Homo sapiens: one gene and its partner. The protein of the gene in region 2 purifies or fractionates together with the protein of the main gene of each other region. This does not show direct contact. Each region holds a gene or a part of one and is shown on either strand. Other genes may lie near its edges.

Region 1 (3,774 bases), on a different chromosome or scaffold from region 2:
CTTGAGTAAACCATCTTCCTTCCCAAAAGGAAATGCCCCCAAGTTACAGGATCATGAGGAAAATGAACCGCTCACAAGTGAAGGAGGAACCAAGCTGTATCCGACCTCACCTACAAACAGGCTCCATCCCAGGGCACACCCCCTAAAGCATGCACAACCCCTGCACCCAGGTGCACTCGGTGTCACCACTGCCATTACTGTTCTGGATCCTTCTGATGCTGCAGTGCCAGCTCCTGATGTCACCCCAGTGGCCCCATGGACCCTTGGCAACAGAACCTCTTTCCCCAGCCTCCTTTCCCCTTAGAGCCCACCTATCAGGTCTGCCTGGCTCTCTGGGACCACAGGGGACACCAGAGCTGTCCTCCCACCCTGAATGCTCAGGAATGATTGGGAAGCGTACCTGTGCCTGGTGCTGGTGCTCGTCATACAGTCTGCTCTGCTGTCTTCTTCTGTGAGGAGGGAAGTACGAGAGGCTCTCAGACCTGCAGCTTTTCCCCACCCACTGCTGCCCCCACCTCCTGAGGACTAGTGAATTCCCCTAGAATAGATACTGGGTCTGCAGCGACCTCCAAGGGCAGAGGCAAACAGATGTTCAGCTCTCCTAAATACAGCTGAGGCCCTGCTGGCCAAGGTGAGAACTTCATCTGTGTCTGAGGTGCTAAGGCCCCGCGCCGTGAGGACAGCTGTTGTTCAGGGCTAGCCTGCCAGCTGGGGCACACGCAGCCCAGGCAACGTTTCCTTTCACCTGGAAACCTGCCACAGTCTACCTGGTTTCCCTGTGCTGGGGGGAGTCTCTCCTTCCTTCCCCAACACCCTTCTACCTCCGGCAGGCCACTTCTACGGCTTCCATGTGCTCAGGGAACATGCCCTGCCAGCCTCTTCCCTGGTGTGTCACAACCCCTGACGCCCCCGACTGGGCCCCGAAAATGGGAAGGGGGCAGGAACCAGGTCTGGGTGTGTAGGAGGGGGCTTGGGTTTGGGTCTGTTTTCTGGCCTGAGACACCCCAGGAACTCTCTACCTTTTTCTTCTTTTTCTTCTGGGACGGTGACTCAGAATCTTTGGTTGAGGCCTTTTTTGCTTTCTTCTTCTTTTCTTTTTTTTCTTTGTCTTTTTTTCCTAAGGGAAGTAAAGTAAAGTTCCTGAACAACAGATGGTAATCCTAAGTGCTGGGGTCAATGTTGGGAGGTGCACAGGGCAGGGCTCCCAGCTTTCCCCACACCACCAGAAGCCATCACAACAGGCCAGCAGGGCGGGGCGTGGAGGTTCATTCCTGCAATCCCAGCACTTTGGGAGGCTGAGGCGGGTGGATTGCTTAAGCCCAGGAGTTCAAGACCAGCTTGGGCAACATAGTGAGACCTGTCTCTACAAAAAATACAAAAATTAGCTGGGGATGGTGGTGCACGCCTGTGGTCCCAGCTATTTGGGGGGCTGAAGCAAGAGGATCGCTTGAGCTTGGGAGGCTGAGCCTGCAGTGAGCTGCGTTCCTGACACTGAACTCCAGCCTGGGTGACAGAGCAAGACCCTGTCTCAAAAAATAAAAATAAAACAGGCTGGCAGCTGTGGTGATCACCCAGCAGGGCCAGTTCACCTGCCCCCTGGAGGCCAGCTCATGATTTCTGTCCCATCCATGGACCACCTGGATGACTACCATTTTTCTTTAGCTCAACTCACTTTTTAAAACTCCCGCAAATTTATTTTAAATGGACACTATCTATCCCTACTGTAAATGGAAATCTAGCACAGTTCTGAGCACCAAGGGGCTGCAAGTCCTGCTCTGAGGGTGCCCGACTTTTGTTCCAGAACGAGCTGGCTCTTCGGGCGTCACTGGCAACCCACCGTCCAGGGCGATGCTCGAGAGTGCTGCCTAGGTTTGACTCTGGCTCCACCTAGCAAAACTCTGTGGCCCTGAACAGCATCTCTACTTCTCCGAGCCCGAGCCGCAGTTTTCTACCTGCTGAGTCTCATTTCTACCTAAATGAGGTCCTGCTGCATGCGGAGTCTAGAACAGCACTCAGTAAAGGGCCAGTGTTACTATGGAGGGAAAACTGAGGTCTAGAGACAAGATGGGGTTTGGGATGAGGATTCTGACAGTCTGGTTCCTGGTCCATTCTGCACCCAGGAGCTGGCTGGAGAAGCAGGTTCCTCCAAGATCTGCTGCACTGGGCTTGGGGAAAGAGGACATGACTCCTCGTCCTTCTGGAGCATTCCTGGCAGTGCTGACTCAAGTGCTCTGGAATCGAGTTCGGGCTTTGCCACAAGCTGCCCCTGTGACTCTGGACAAACCACTTCTCAGCCTTTTTTTTTTTTTTTTTTTTTGACAGTCTTGCTCTGTCACCCAGGCTGGAGTGCAATGCGTGATCTCGGCTCACTGCAAGCTCTGCCTCCCGGGTTCAAACAATTCTCCTGCCTCAGCCTCCCATGTAGCTGAGATTACAGGTGCCCGCCACCACATCCAGCTAATTTTTTGTATTTTTAGTAGAGACGGGGTTTTGCCATGTTGGCCAGGCTGGTCTCAGCCTCTCTTTTCTACATGGGAGGAATGAGACCAGGTGCTGGCTGAGGGTCCCTCCCGCCCCCGTGGGGTGCCCAGCAGCCCTTGGGGTGGGCTGGGAGAAGCGGTCACTCACTCTTGTCGGATTTCTTCTTCTCCTTCTTGCTCTTTGGGTTGCTTTGATCTCCACCTTCAACCGTCCCCATCCCCTTCTGAAGCTCCTCTTCTGGCTCGTCCTTGGCCCCTTGGGAGCCAAGAGACCCCTTCCCTTTCTTCTCCTTGACATCACCACTTGCTTTGTCTCTCTTTGCTTTCCCCTTGGAAGTCGTGGAGGTCTTTTCTGGGGAAACAGAGGCCTCCCCACCTTCCCCGGCCCCCAGCTTCTTCTTCTTCTTGCTCCTGGGGGTCCTGGCAGCTGGCTGGTCTCCCGATAGCTTCCGCTTGCGGCTCTCCCAGCCCTTCCTGCTGCTCTCCTTGGTGGTGTCCACCACCTTCTTTCTTTCCTGTTCCAGCAGCTCAGTCAGGACCTTCACCACTGAGGCCTGCACCTGGGCCTCATTCAGGGGCCAGGGTTGGCCCAGGAGGCACTGGGTGATGTTGCTTTGCAGCGCCAGGGTTGAGGCTTGGGGGTTCCCAGCCCCTTTCTTGGGCTTCCGGGACTTCTGAGGTGTGGTGCCTGAAGCAGCCTCTTTTCCACCTATGGAGAGAGAATGTGGGGTCACAGATCTGGGAGAGTTGGGGGACAGATCTTATGGTACCTAAGAGCGAAGAGGGTGCAGGGAGTGACTCCATCTTTTCTTACAATGGCACAGATGGGGAGAGCAAGGCTTGGCGGTCACTCTGCCCCAGCTGGTCTCCTAAGCTCACACCTTTCCACCAATTTCACACCCTGACTTCATTTCTAACTTACAGCTTTTCCCTGTCTCTTTATACTAAAAACTCCAGTTAGGGTGGGGGACAGAAAATGACTCCAGAATGTTAATGAAAGGGCCTGAAATCTATCAATGGAATGAAAATTCAGAAAGGAGGGAGATGGAGTCTGGAGCTGGGAGGAAGGAGACCTGGGTTCTAGGTCTGACTTTCCCACCCACTTTCAGTGTGATTCTGGCCAGGACCCATCTCCTCCCAGGGCCTTGGTTTCCCTGTCTATAACGTGAGGGGTGGATGAACAGTAAGGCTTCCTATGATACATTGTAGATTTATAATAAAAGTGGGGGCCATGCAGACATTCAACTGATGATTACCCACACTCGGCCCTTCCTGGTCAGGGGGTCCAGGCAAG
Region 2 (3,600 bases):
ATTCTATCACTCCAAACATATCCCCATGGCCAGGTCTTCCACTTGTAGTCCACTTGATTGTCATATTCATTGCCTTATTTTCCACGAGGAAAATACTTTTACCCATAGTAAAAGCCAAAGACACATATAAAAATAAGATTTTCCTCTTTACTCTCGTCCTTACATGTCCACAGACTTCATGTAGAGAGGCTGAGCCTTTCGACCACAAAGTGTGTTCTGTGTTGAAGATGTTATAATGATGGGAGAGGGCAGTTGCAGCAGCTTCTAACCAAGTGTCTACAACACATGTACTACTGTTTCCTACCTGTGTCACCTCTGCAAAAAATGGAGCTCTGAGCCCAGTTCTGTGAGCATGGTGTCAGAGCCCTCCAAAGTCCTGAGAAATCAATACCAGGGATCCAAATCTCAGACACCAGTTTGAAGCAATACCTGGATACCAAGACTCAGAGTGAGGATATGGATTTTGGGAGCTGACAGTTTTGCTGATCCTGCCACACTGGCAGGGGCTGAAGTCCAGAAATGGTGTGTAGCTCTAGTCATTCTTATTCACCACAGCTCTTATTTCACAGTTTTTTCCCTTGGTTTCTTCTGTTTCTTCTGTTCCTCATATTCAAGTATTTTCTGTTGGAAATAGCCTGTGGGTTCAAATACAGGTGTTAGAGGCATCTGATCTGGTCAGGCAGATTATAATGAGCTCAGGAATAAGGATCAGAAATATCCTGTCTGCTCCCCATACTGCCATCCCTGCCAGGATGTCTCTGGCCTCACAGGTTCTGGAGATCCAGACATTCAGTTTTGTCCAAAAAGGAGCCCATAAACAGAGGATACTTAGCAGGAATTAGCTCTAGACTAAAACAGAGGAAAGGGCTCAGTCCTGTTCACTAATGGGTAAACCAACTTCCACAAAATGGCAGCCCATTAGACATTTTCTTAGGTTTCAGGTTATGTCATTTCAACTCCACTAATAAAAGTCTACCTACAGCTATTTTGTGGGTTTCTAAAGAGAAGTATTCTTTCTTTCCCCTCCTCTTTATTCTAGAGGTAACCCTCTATGGGCTTAGACTGATGGGGACTGTTACTGTACCTGCAGGAGGATTCTTGCTCTTCTCGGCTTCCTGGATGAAAAGTGAGAAGAGCTGTGTCTTCACAAACTTCTTCACAAATCGGCGGTTGGTCTTGGAGGTCAGAGCCTTACAGAAGGATCTTTCTTGGAAGTGGCCTTGCCCATTTGCCTCCCGCTTGATATAGGAAGCATAATGGCCCACAATCTTGACAAAGAACTGCACAAAGGGGCCTGAAACATGCTCGTTGATTTGTTCTGCAGCTGCAGGAGATATAAAGGCCATCTCAGAGGGTAGCAGAAGGATGAAATTACCCAAACTCACCTTCAAGAATGGCTTTCTTGCAGGCGGAAAGCTCCTGGGGAAAGCCATAGGGTAGGGTTCATAATTACTGACTGAGATGGGAATCTGGGTATGAGTTCTCTGCCATTGCTTAGGAAGAATACAATCCCAAATTCAGACTTGCCCTAGGTTCTAGGCCTCTAGGGCTGGTCTAGGACTACTGAATGAGTTCATTTTAGTTCTGGAAGGGAATGATTGAGAAGCATGCCCTTGCACTGCCTGGAGAGACCCAAAATAAGAGTAAGGACTTACTCTTTAACTCATTGATCCCCTGACCAAGAGAGTCTAAGATGTCATCCTGAAGCTTCGGTGGCAGGATGTCTTTTTCATCACCAACCTAGAAGAGGACAGAGCTCCGAGGTCAAGCAGGAAGGAAGTGTGGAGTGAAGGTGGTTGGCAGAAAAGCATAAGGAGGGCATGAATTCTACACCCCCACTCCACCCGCAAATAGCCACATAGGACAGAAACAACAGAAGCTGTTTCTTGGCCTTTAGTTTGACTCTAGACATTAGCAAGGGATCCTCTCCATCCCGGTGGTACTTGATTTATATCCCTTGCTTAAAAGGCACTATCACTGATTGTCTTATAGTGAAGTCATCTGTGTTTATGTCCATGGGCTCCTTGAGAGAGATGTGGTCTTTTTAGCACAGATTCTCACTCAACAAAGAACTTAAATGTTTGTTTAAATAAGTGGAACATGGATGAAACTAGAGTGGTAGAGTTGTTGATAGGCCTGCAGGGGATCTGAACCCAGACACTTACCGACATTAAGAAGGTTCCTTCACAAAGATTGACCAGCAGGACCTGAAATAAACATAGACTGGCTTTCTCTGGTCCTCTTTCTTCATAGACCCCCAGAGGATTTACCGTCTTGATTTCTGCCTGTGGCTGTATCTTTCAGCCCAGGTAGCAACAAAATCAATATCTTCAGTTCTCATTTCCTATCTAGCATTCTCCTTTCTCACCATTCCCCTCTGGAGATCTCAGTTCCATTCCTGAGGAAAGGGTGTGGGTGTTTGTAGGAAGGGAGTAGGAGAAAGAGCTAAGGTAGAAGGGAAATACAAGATGGAGAAATCACAGCCAGTCACTCCCTTAATAAAACATTGACTGCAGAAATTGCTTCTACATGGAGCATTTAGTACATTGTTCACATAAGTGCTTTACACGTTTGATCTCAAGCAACAGTCCCGTGAGGCAGATACAATCTCCATTTTGAAGATGAGGAAACAGACCCAAAGAAGCTGCCCGAGGTCATACTATGCTGCTAATAAGAGAACCAATTTTTTTCCAAGCCTAGACTGATATTCTTGAGATTGCATTCCTCTCTCTACAATTCCCCTTCAACTCCCTGCTCTCTAGAACAGAGACCAACATCTTTTTATTTTTTTCATGCTTGCAACATCTTATGTACAATTTTCTATTAGAAAAACTCCTGCCTCTCGTGGTGGCTCACGCCTGTAATCCCAGCACTTTGGGAGGCCGAGGCGGGTGGATCACGAGGTCAGGAGATCGAGACCATCCTGGCTAACACGGTGAAACCCTGTCTCTACTAAAAACGCAAAAAATCAGCCGGGTGTGGTGGCGGGCGCCTGTAGTCCCAGCTACTCCAGAGGCTGAGGCAGGAGAATGGCGTGAACCCGGGAGGCGGAGCTTGCGGTGAGCCGAGATCGCGCCACTGCACTCCAGCCTGGGCGACACAGCGAGACTCTGTCTCAAAAAAAAAAAAAAAAAAAACTACCTCACAGCTTTGGGCCTTCCAGCAGGAAACAGCAAAGGAAGAAAATGAGCCCAGGGTCAACAGGAAGAGGAAAGGAAAGGAAGTGAGGAGACCATGTGTCTACAGTCCTCAAGTGAGATAAGCACTGGGCTGGAACTTGGGGGACCTGAGTTTTAGCACTGGCCCCATCACTGCCCAGGGAGCCTTCAGTCTAGACCAGAGATTACAAATAGGCATCCTGCTGGCTGATTCCAACCAGCAGATCTGTTTCTTTGATCTTCACAGTATTTTTAAGTAATTGATTTGGTTTCCAATATTTAAACTGGACTATCTCACATAAAGTTTGGATTTGGGGCTTCTCCTGAAAAGTCAGGAGATCTAACACTGGGTCCACATTTCTAAAGGACAACACTCAGATGGAACTGAGTAGCAGTTGCCTGCTTTAGGCAGGGCATGTTCCCACCAGTTTACCGTAACTTC

Evidence for each region.
Region 1: the proteins of DENND2D (region 2) and TCOF1 purify together in Homo sapiens (affinity purification with mass spectrometry; 3 studies listed by BioGRID and IntAct, with this or other methods). This does not show direct contact.

Annotation. Positions count from the first base shown.
Region 1 is NC_000005.10:150,395,697-150,399,470, reverse strand, and holds part of TCOF1 (treacle protein), read right to left. Parts: intron 3,190-3,774; coding exon 2,629-3,189; intron 1,118-2,628; coding exon 1,020-1,117; intron 450-1,019; coding exon 423-449; 3' UTR 401-422; intron 1-400.
Region 2 is NC_000001.11:111,187,047-111,190,646, forward strand, and holds part of DENND2D (DENN domain-containing protein 2D), read right to left. Parts: intron 2,208-3,600; coding exon 2,166-2,207; intron 1,741-2,165; coding exon 1,656-1,740; intron 1,325-1,655; coding exon 1,085-1,324; intron 636-1,084; coding exon 559-635; 3' UTR 1-558. UniProt on the Homo sapiens protein: Guanine nucleotide exchange factor (GEF) which may activate RAB9A and RAB9B. Promotes the exchange of GDP to GTP, converting inactive GDP-bound Rab proteins into their active GTP-bound form.